2 linked regions of the Homo sapiens genome follow. The protein of the gene in region 2 purifies or fractionates together with the protein of the main gene of each other region. This does not show direct contact. Each region holds a gene or a part of one and is shown on either strand. Other genes may lie near its edges.

Region 1 (3,750 bases), on a different chromosome or scaffold from region 2:
GGCTGGAGACCCGAAGACACATAAGAAAATGAGATTGTGATCTGAAAGGCAAAATAGACTGAAAAGTAGGCTAGTAATGATGGAAGTGCATATGTCCGTCTAGTCCCAGCCCAGATGCCACTTTAGTCCACCAAGCTTGCCTTGATATCCCCCACCTCCAAATCACAATTAATCACTTGCTTATCGACAATCCCATAGAGCTTCCTTTACATTGCTCTCATGATTATTTTCCCTTTGCTTTATAGAAACACATTTCTGTCCTCCTCCAATGCTTAGTGGAGTCCTTGGGGTTCAGACCTTGATAGATTCATTTTGTTTCTCATGAGCATGATGCCGGGTACATGTGCTATTAAAGTTTGCTGGGTCAGGAAAGTGCTAGGATGCTGCAAGAACATCCAGTAAAGGGCAGAAATATAAGAACTACCATCCTTGGCTGGAGGCAATAGAGTACTGTGGCTAACAGGCAGGCTCTGGAGTGGGATAGACTTGAGTTCAAATTCATTCTTAGCAGCTTCCAGCTGTGTAACCTTGGGCACCCTCTCTAAAGCTTCAACTTTTAAGACTGTGGAATGGATCTCAACTGTCAAATAGCACAAACCTCACTGGACTGAATGAGATGACCCACGTAGTGGCATATGGTAAGTGCTCAACAGCTATTAGTGGATTGGTGCTGGTCCAAGGGAGGACATGCCAGTGCAGCCCTTAAAAAGGGAGCTGGAGAAGAAAGGAGTTTGGGGCTGCATTTTCACATAAGGTGCCAGGGCCTGATGCTGAGCAAAACCTTTGTATTGGGTGCCACCGACTGTCATCTCTTGTTTAGGTTTGACTGGGGAAACGTTTCCACAGACATGAACTAGTTTGTCAAGGCTGGCAAGGGATTTTCAAGGGTTTAGGGGTGCAGTCTAGGCTCAGAGCTCAGAGTGCAAGCCACAAAAGAGAGCCATCTTCCTGAGTCACCAAAACACTTGATTCGGGCCTCTGACCCTTAGCTGGCAGCCCCTTAGGATAGGATGGGCTGTGCCTGGGTCTGTCTTTGCTGCTAGGGGCTCTGAGAGAGGAAGCCCCATTTGTCACTTTCATTTCTATGTCCCCAGCCCCTTGCAGTATGCTTCATCCTAAGCAGGCATTCAAAGTGCTTGTTGAAGGAATAGATTTGTGTCCTAGTTACAGCCCTGACTTCCACTAGATGCTCAAAGATTGCCCTGATTTTGCAAGGAAGAGCAACTACTCAGGGAAACTGAGGCACACTTGTAGGTTAGAGTCCCTCAGTCTGCAAGGAGACACACACATCCTCAGCAGTGGGGAAGTGGTTTGGTTACTGAAGCTGTAAATAAGAATTTTGTCTTTATATTAATTCCTACTCTGATTCTAGGGAAGAACTCTCCTCTCAGGCTGGAGTAAGGGGAGAACTGAGCTCAGACACTGCCTCTTAGTTGTGGGGGCTGCAAACTGCCCCTCCCTCATGATATCTTCTCAGCTGTTTGCAAAACAGTCAGGGAGGAGGTGAAGCCCTGAGCCAGGCGGCCTGTCTGTCTCTTTAAATGCTGGGGTCTGTGTGGGAGAGGGAGGGGCCGGCTCTGGAGTGCGTGAAATTCCTGGGCTCCTCCAGCAGTCTCAGGCTCAGCGCTCAGCCCTACACATCGCCTCTTGCATGCAACTCACAGAGAGGGAGAGGCAACCTGTCCTCCCCTCTCTCAGCCTCGGCATCTCCAGCCACCAAGGACCTGCTTTTCGCACCTCCAACAACCCCTCCCTTCTACCCTGCCACTCCCTCCCAGAGAGAAAGGAAAAGGAGAGAGAAAGATTCTGGAATTTGAACCTACCCAAAGAGGAAACATACCCAGCAAACTCAGTTGATTAAACATCAAACAGACATACAGACAGATCCCAAATCTTCTGTTCAACTGGAAAGGTAAGGTTTGCGGGGAAAGGAAGGCAGTCAGGGCATGAAACAACTCAAGGTTCTTGTCCGTTCTGGGAAGAGGTTGCTCCTGAGAGGGTAGAAGTTTTCAGTTGGGAGCAACCAACCTAGATTTTCTTTTTTGAATACTGTATCCATGAGCCTTGGCTGACTGTGGAAATGGCTTTTCAACTGCCTTTCTTTTCCTTCAGTTTCTCCTGGAAGTTGGGTCCTTTTCCTCCAGATGTTGGAAAAGTCAGAGAATGTTTTAGATTTTTATCTTCTTCTTCTTTTTTTTTTTTTTTTTTTGAGTCTTTCTCCTATTTGCTTGAATTGTTAGTCTGAAATGATGTGTGCTCATCACTTCATTTTGGGCAGATACTTTTTTTTTGACATTTTGTAGTCACTTCCCCCCTCATTTATTCATTTATTTATTTGGGCTGGTTAAAATGAGAAACAGAAAGGACACTCTGAGGATCACAAGAAAACAAAATTGAATTGAGACAGGGATTTCCCTAGCTGTTGAGGAATTGACGTGTATGTGAGTGTGTGTGTGCTTTTTTTTTTTTTTTTTGAGGGGGTGTGAGGAGGTGGTCCTAGAGTCTAAAAATTCAGGTTGGACTCCTGTCTTGTGAAGGTGGGCATACTTGGAGAAGGTGAAAAGGGAGTGTGTGTGTGAGTGTGTGTGTGTGTGTGTGCGCGGGTGTGTGCTCCTGTTTGGATCGGTTACAAGGGAATCTTCCTCCACTGCCTTCCATTTGTTTATATTAATGATTTAGTAGCAGGCTTGCCTGAAAACTTCCACTCTGTGTAAGCACTGTGGGTTTTGCAAGCTCTCAGTGACCTTAAAGCCTGGTTCGATGTATTGTTTTTTCCAGGCATTGTGCTGTACCCAGAGTTTCAGCTCTTTCCCTCTCTCTTTTTTAACCACAAAACTTAACTGCTTTAGAAACATCATCCTGATGACAAGGAAAAAAATGTGTCCCCCCACCCCCCATCCCTTCTTAGGCCAGTGATGTAATACCAACCTAAGGGCTCGGCTGCTTTGCAGGTGACTTACCCTGTGATTACTTGTTAAAAAAAAATAAAATTTTCCCTTCCTCCATTAAATGTCTGCCTCTTTTAATTTGGATGTAGAAATATCATCATGCAATGAGAACATCATATTTTTGCTAACCATTATTGGGGTTTAGGTAAAGTAGGATTGCTCTTCTCTGATCTTTATTGTTAATACTTTTTTTTTTAATGCAAAGGTCAGAGATCATTGAGAGCTAGCTTAGGATGGAGCAAGATAGAGTCAGGGCAAATAAAAGAGCTGGTAGGACAAGAGCTGTCTTCTCCCCGCTTCCTTCGGTTCCCGCTTTGGGGAGATAGTTTTTCTTTTACCACTACAAGCCACCCCAACATTCTTCTTTCTTCCTCTCCGCTGGGTCCTGTGGATGGCCCTGGGAGGGAGAGGGGGCACTCCTTGTCACACCTGGAGGATGGTGTAATTTTGGGGGTCAGATGACCGTTTGCCTTTGTGATGAAGGTTCCAGTGGAAATTTGAACTCCCAGCACGCTGCGTGACTTGGTACCCAGGATAGTCTATCTGGGGGCACCTGGAGGTTAGTCTGGGGAGGCTGGAGAACTGGCTCTTTATTAATTTGCCGTTCTGGGTAGAGCCTTCCTTCATCGTTCAAGGGCTTCTGCATCGCCTTTCAAGTTAAAATGGTCCCGCTGGTTATGATGGGCAAGTTTACCTAAGGGCTACTGGGTATGTGGCGGAAGGATGGAGGGGAGTGAGAGGAGGCAAGGCTGGTATTTATTTTTTAATCTTCGGGCTTAATCTGCCTAAGTCATATGGGGCA
Region 2 (3,750 bases):
GGCTGAGGCAGGAGAATCGCTTGAACCTGGGAGGCAAGGGCTGCAGTGAGCCAAGATCGCACCACTGCACTACACTGGTCTGTAGCCTGGGCGACAGAGCAAGACTCTGTCTCAAAAAAATAATAAATAACATTCTAGGAGAGAACAATTTAAAGGATAAAATTACCACCTTCCCTCTCCCCAGTTTGCTAGCTGGCCTGGTATTATCTCTGTTGTTCACTTCACAGGCTATAGTTTCCACTTTATTATCCAAGAAAAACAGGCTAATAAAATATTTAATAGCTATTAGGTAGCACATATTTGAGCAAAGGTATTAATCAGAAGAGTTTTAAATTAACCTAAAAAAGCCCACAGACATTAATAAGCAAAACGTACTATTTTGATATTCAACGCTAACGTGTAAGTACACATTATCAATTAATATCAGAAACTGGATACCTATTAGACTAGTTAATTATAACTGACAATGGGCTTGAGTGTCATGGCAGAAATAAATCGATCAGAAGCAATGACATTCTGATGTCAGTTTTCTGGCAGAATATACCAAGGTGACAAAAGGAAAAAGGGGTGGGTGGAAAGTGTCAAAATCCCTATGGAGAGTAAACAGAAAAATATCTCCCTATTTATAAAATATCAACCAAAATGGCACCTGGTGATATTCTGACATTGTATTCTATGTTTGCATTTCTAAATTTCAGTTTATCATTCAACATGATCTAAACTGCTTTACTTTTCACTAAGAGGAAGAACTAGGAAAGAAATCAGCCTACAAATGGCTTACACTGTACACAACAGAACACAGATCAAAAAAACATCCACAGGCCGGGCGTGGCGGCTCACGCCTGTAATACCAGCACTTTGGGAGGCTGAAGTGGGCAGATCACCTGAGATCAGGAGTTTGAGACTAGCCTGGCCAACATGGCGAAACCCCGTCTCTACTAAAAATACAAAAATTAGCCGGGCGTGTTGGCGGGTGCCTGTAATCCCACCTACTCAGGAGGCAGAGGCAGGAGAATCACTCAAACCCCAGAGGCAGAGGTTACAGTGAGCCGAGATCGCGCCATTGCACTCCAACCAGGGCAACAAGAGCGAAACTCCATCTCAAAAAAATATATATATATATCAACAATAATCCCTACTACTGGAGTTAACAGATTACTGCAGGTTACAGGTAGGGCTCTGCTGGGAAGAACAAAGCAATCAGAATCACAGACTGATGAAGCTGTCCCTACTATAAAAGTCCCAAGCAAAAATGCTCCAATACTGTATCCTCTGGATCTCCCTGAGCCGTTAAGGGGGAGAAAAAGTCAGGTAAGCAGCTGTAAAGTTATGTCTAAATCATTTGTGCACATGATAAAATCATATAGGTGAGCGATGACCATTTTAAAAATGTTCTAGTCTGAAGCAAAAGGAACTACACAGCTCATGATTATCTAGGGTTTAAGTGCTTTTCTTTTTTCTTTTTTTTTTTTTTGAGACAGAGTCTCACTCTGTCTCCAGGATGGAGTACAGTGGCGTGATCTCAGCTCACTGCAACCCGCGCCTCCTGGGTTCCAGCAATTCTCCTGCCTCAGCCTTCCGAGTAGCTGGGACTACAGGAGTGTGCCACCATGACTAGCTAATTTTTGTATTTTTAGTAGAGACGGGGTTTCACCACGTTGGTTAGGATGGTCTCCATCTCTTGAGCTTGTGATCCGCCCACCTCGGCCTCCCAAAGTGCTGGGATTACAGGCGTGAGCTACTGCTCCTGGCCTTTTTTTTTTTTTTGAGATGGAGTTTCACTCTTGTCCCCCAGGCTGGAATGCAATGGTGTGATCTTGACTCATTGCAACCTCTGTCCCCCGGGTTCAAGCAATTCTCCTGCCTCAGCCTCCTGAGTAGCTGGGATTACAGGTGCCTGCCACCACACCCGGCTAATTTTTGTATTTTTAGCAGAGACAGGGTTTCACCATGTTGGCCAGGCTGGTCTCAAACTCCTGACCTCAGGTGATCCGCCTGCCTTGGCCTCCCAAAGTGCTGAGAATATAGGTGTGAGCCATTGTACCCAGCCTCAAGTGCTTTTCCTTGAGGAAGTCACACATGATTTTACTCCACAACTCTTATTTCATAGGAGCAGTGTACACCTTAGTATCCTATCCCTTCTAACCCAACCACTAACTTCAAATCAAGCCTCCAAGACAGAAATTCTTTACTCTCCTCATGGTGGTAAAAAGGGCATAAAGTAAGGCCAGCGGCGGCGGCTAAAGCCTGTATGTACCTCAGCACTTTGCAAGGCTGAGGCGAGAGGATCACCTGAGGTCAGGAGTTTGAGACCAGCCTGACTAACATGGTGAAATCTGATCTCTACTAAAATACAAAAATTAGCCAGACGTGGCAGGTGCCTGTAATCTCAGTTACTTGGGAAGCTGAAGCAGGAGAATCGCTTGAACTCTAGAGGCTGAGGCTGCAGTGAGCCAAGATTGCTCCACCGCACTCCAGCCTGGGCGACAGAGAGAGACTCCCTCTCAAAAAAAAAAAAAGACTTTACTGGCAGGGCATGGTGGCTCACGCCTGTAATCCCAGCACTATGGGAGCCCGAGATGGGTGGATCACCTGAGGTCAGGAGTTTGAGACCAGCCTGGCCAACATGGTGAAACCCTGTCTCTACTAAAATACAAAAATTAGTCAGATGTGGTGGCAGGTGCCTGTAATCTGTTACTTGGGAGGCTGAGCAGGCAACTCGCTTGAACCCGGGAGGCTGAGGCTGCAATGAGCCAAGATCACCCCACTGCACTCCAGCCTGGGTGACAAGAGCAAGAGTCCACCTAAAAAAAGAGAAAAAAGATTTTATTTGCGATTGGAAGAGAGTGTTTCTTTGTCTGCATGGTACCAGAGGAATTAGGAAGTTGGCAGGAACAAGTGATGGTTTATGATTTCCTGAATTGTTAAAGGCTAGAAGGCTGGCCCTGTAGAAATTCAAGAAGTGTGCGTGTCAACCACCCTAAAACCATTTACTGTTCTTAGCTGTTTAGCTGAACTCCACTTAAGTTTTGGTGAAACTCTGAAATCCTAAAGGACAATGTTCTCTGACAATGCTGAAAATGGATATAAAACAAAAATGTCATAGCCAAGGACATATTGACAGTTTTTGATAAGCCACTCACAACTTCTAGGCACTCCCAATCTTCTGGCATTTAAATTGGGAAGGAGAGGTTATTTAGGAGAGTTTGTTCCCTGCCAATATTAAAGATAGTTTCACCATTAAGCTGTCAGCTTTTACACTGTTGACAAGTGAAATACACAGAGTAAAGCAAACCATAAGCTCTAAGAGATGTTTAACTACTTTTGCTATTGGAGCAATTACCATGTTTGGATTTGGTGGAGGCCATTATAATCTTTCCATAGTCCATCAAGAGCTTGAAATTTAGCCACTTTTTGCCCCCTTTTTTTTGTTTTGAGACAGAGTCTTGCTCTGTCACCCAGACTGGAGTGCAGTGGTGTGATCTCGGCTCACTGCAACCTCTGCCTCCCGGGTTCAAGCAATTCTCCTGACTCAGCCTCCTAAGTAGCTGGGATTACAGGCCTGCGCCAACATGCCTGGCTAATTTTTTTGTATTTTTTAGTAGAGATGGGGTTTCACCATGTTGGCCAGGCTGGTCTCGAACTCCTGACCTTGCGATATGCCTGTAATCCCAGCATTTTTGGAGGCCGAAGTGGGCGGATTACTTGAGGTCAGGAGTTCAAGACTAGTCTGGCTGACATGATGAAACC

What was found. The genes of interacting proteins can lie anywhere in the genome.
Region 1: the proteins of PIP5K1A (region 2) and NRXN3 purify together in Homo sapiens (affinity purification with mass spectrometry; 2 studies listed by BioGRID and IntAct, with this or other methods). This does not show direct contact.

Annotation. Positions count from the first base shown.
Region 1 is NC_000014.9:78,168,763-78,172,512, forward strand, and holds the start of NRXN3 (neurexin 3), read left to right. Parts: upstream 1-1,610; 5' UTR 1,611-1,912; intron 1,913-3,750. UniProt on the Homo sapiens protein: Neuronal cell surface protein that may be involved in cell recognition and cell adhesion. May mediate intracellular signaling. Functions as part of a trans-synaptic complex by binding to cerebellins and postsynaptic GRID1.
Region 2 is NC_000001.11:151,201,547-151,205,296, reverse strand, and holds part of PIP5K1A (phosphatidylinositol 4-phosphate 5-kinase type-1 alpha), read right to left. Parts: intron 1,492-3,750; exon of another isoform or gene 1-1,491. UniProt on the Homo sapiens protein: Catalyzes the phosphorylation of phosphatidylinositol 4-phosphate (PtdIns(4)P/PI4P) to form phosphatidylinositol 4,5-bisphosphate (PtdIns(4,5)P2/PIP2), a lipid second messenger that regulates several cellular processes such as signal transduction, vesicle trafficking, actin cytoskeleton dynamics, cell adhesion, and cell motility.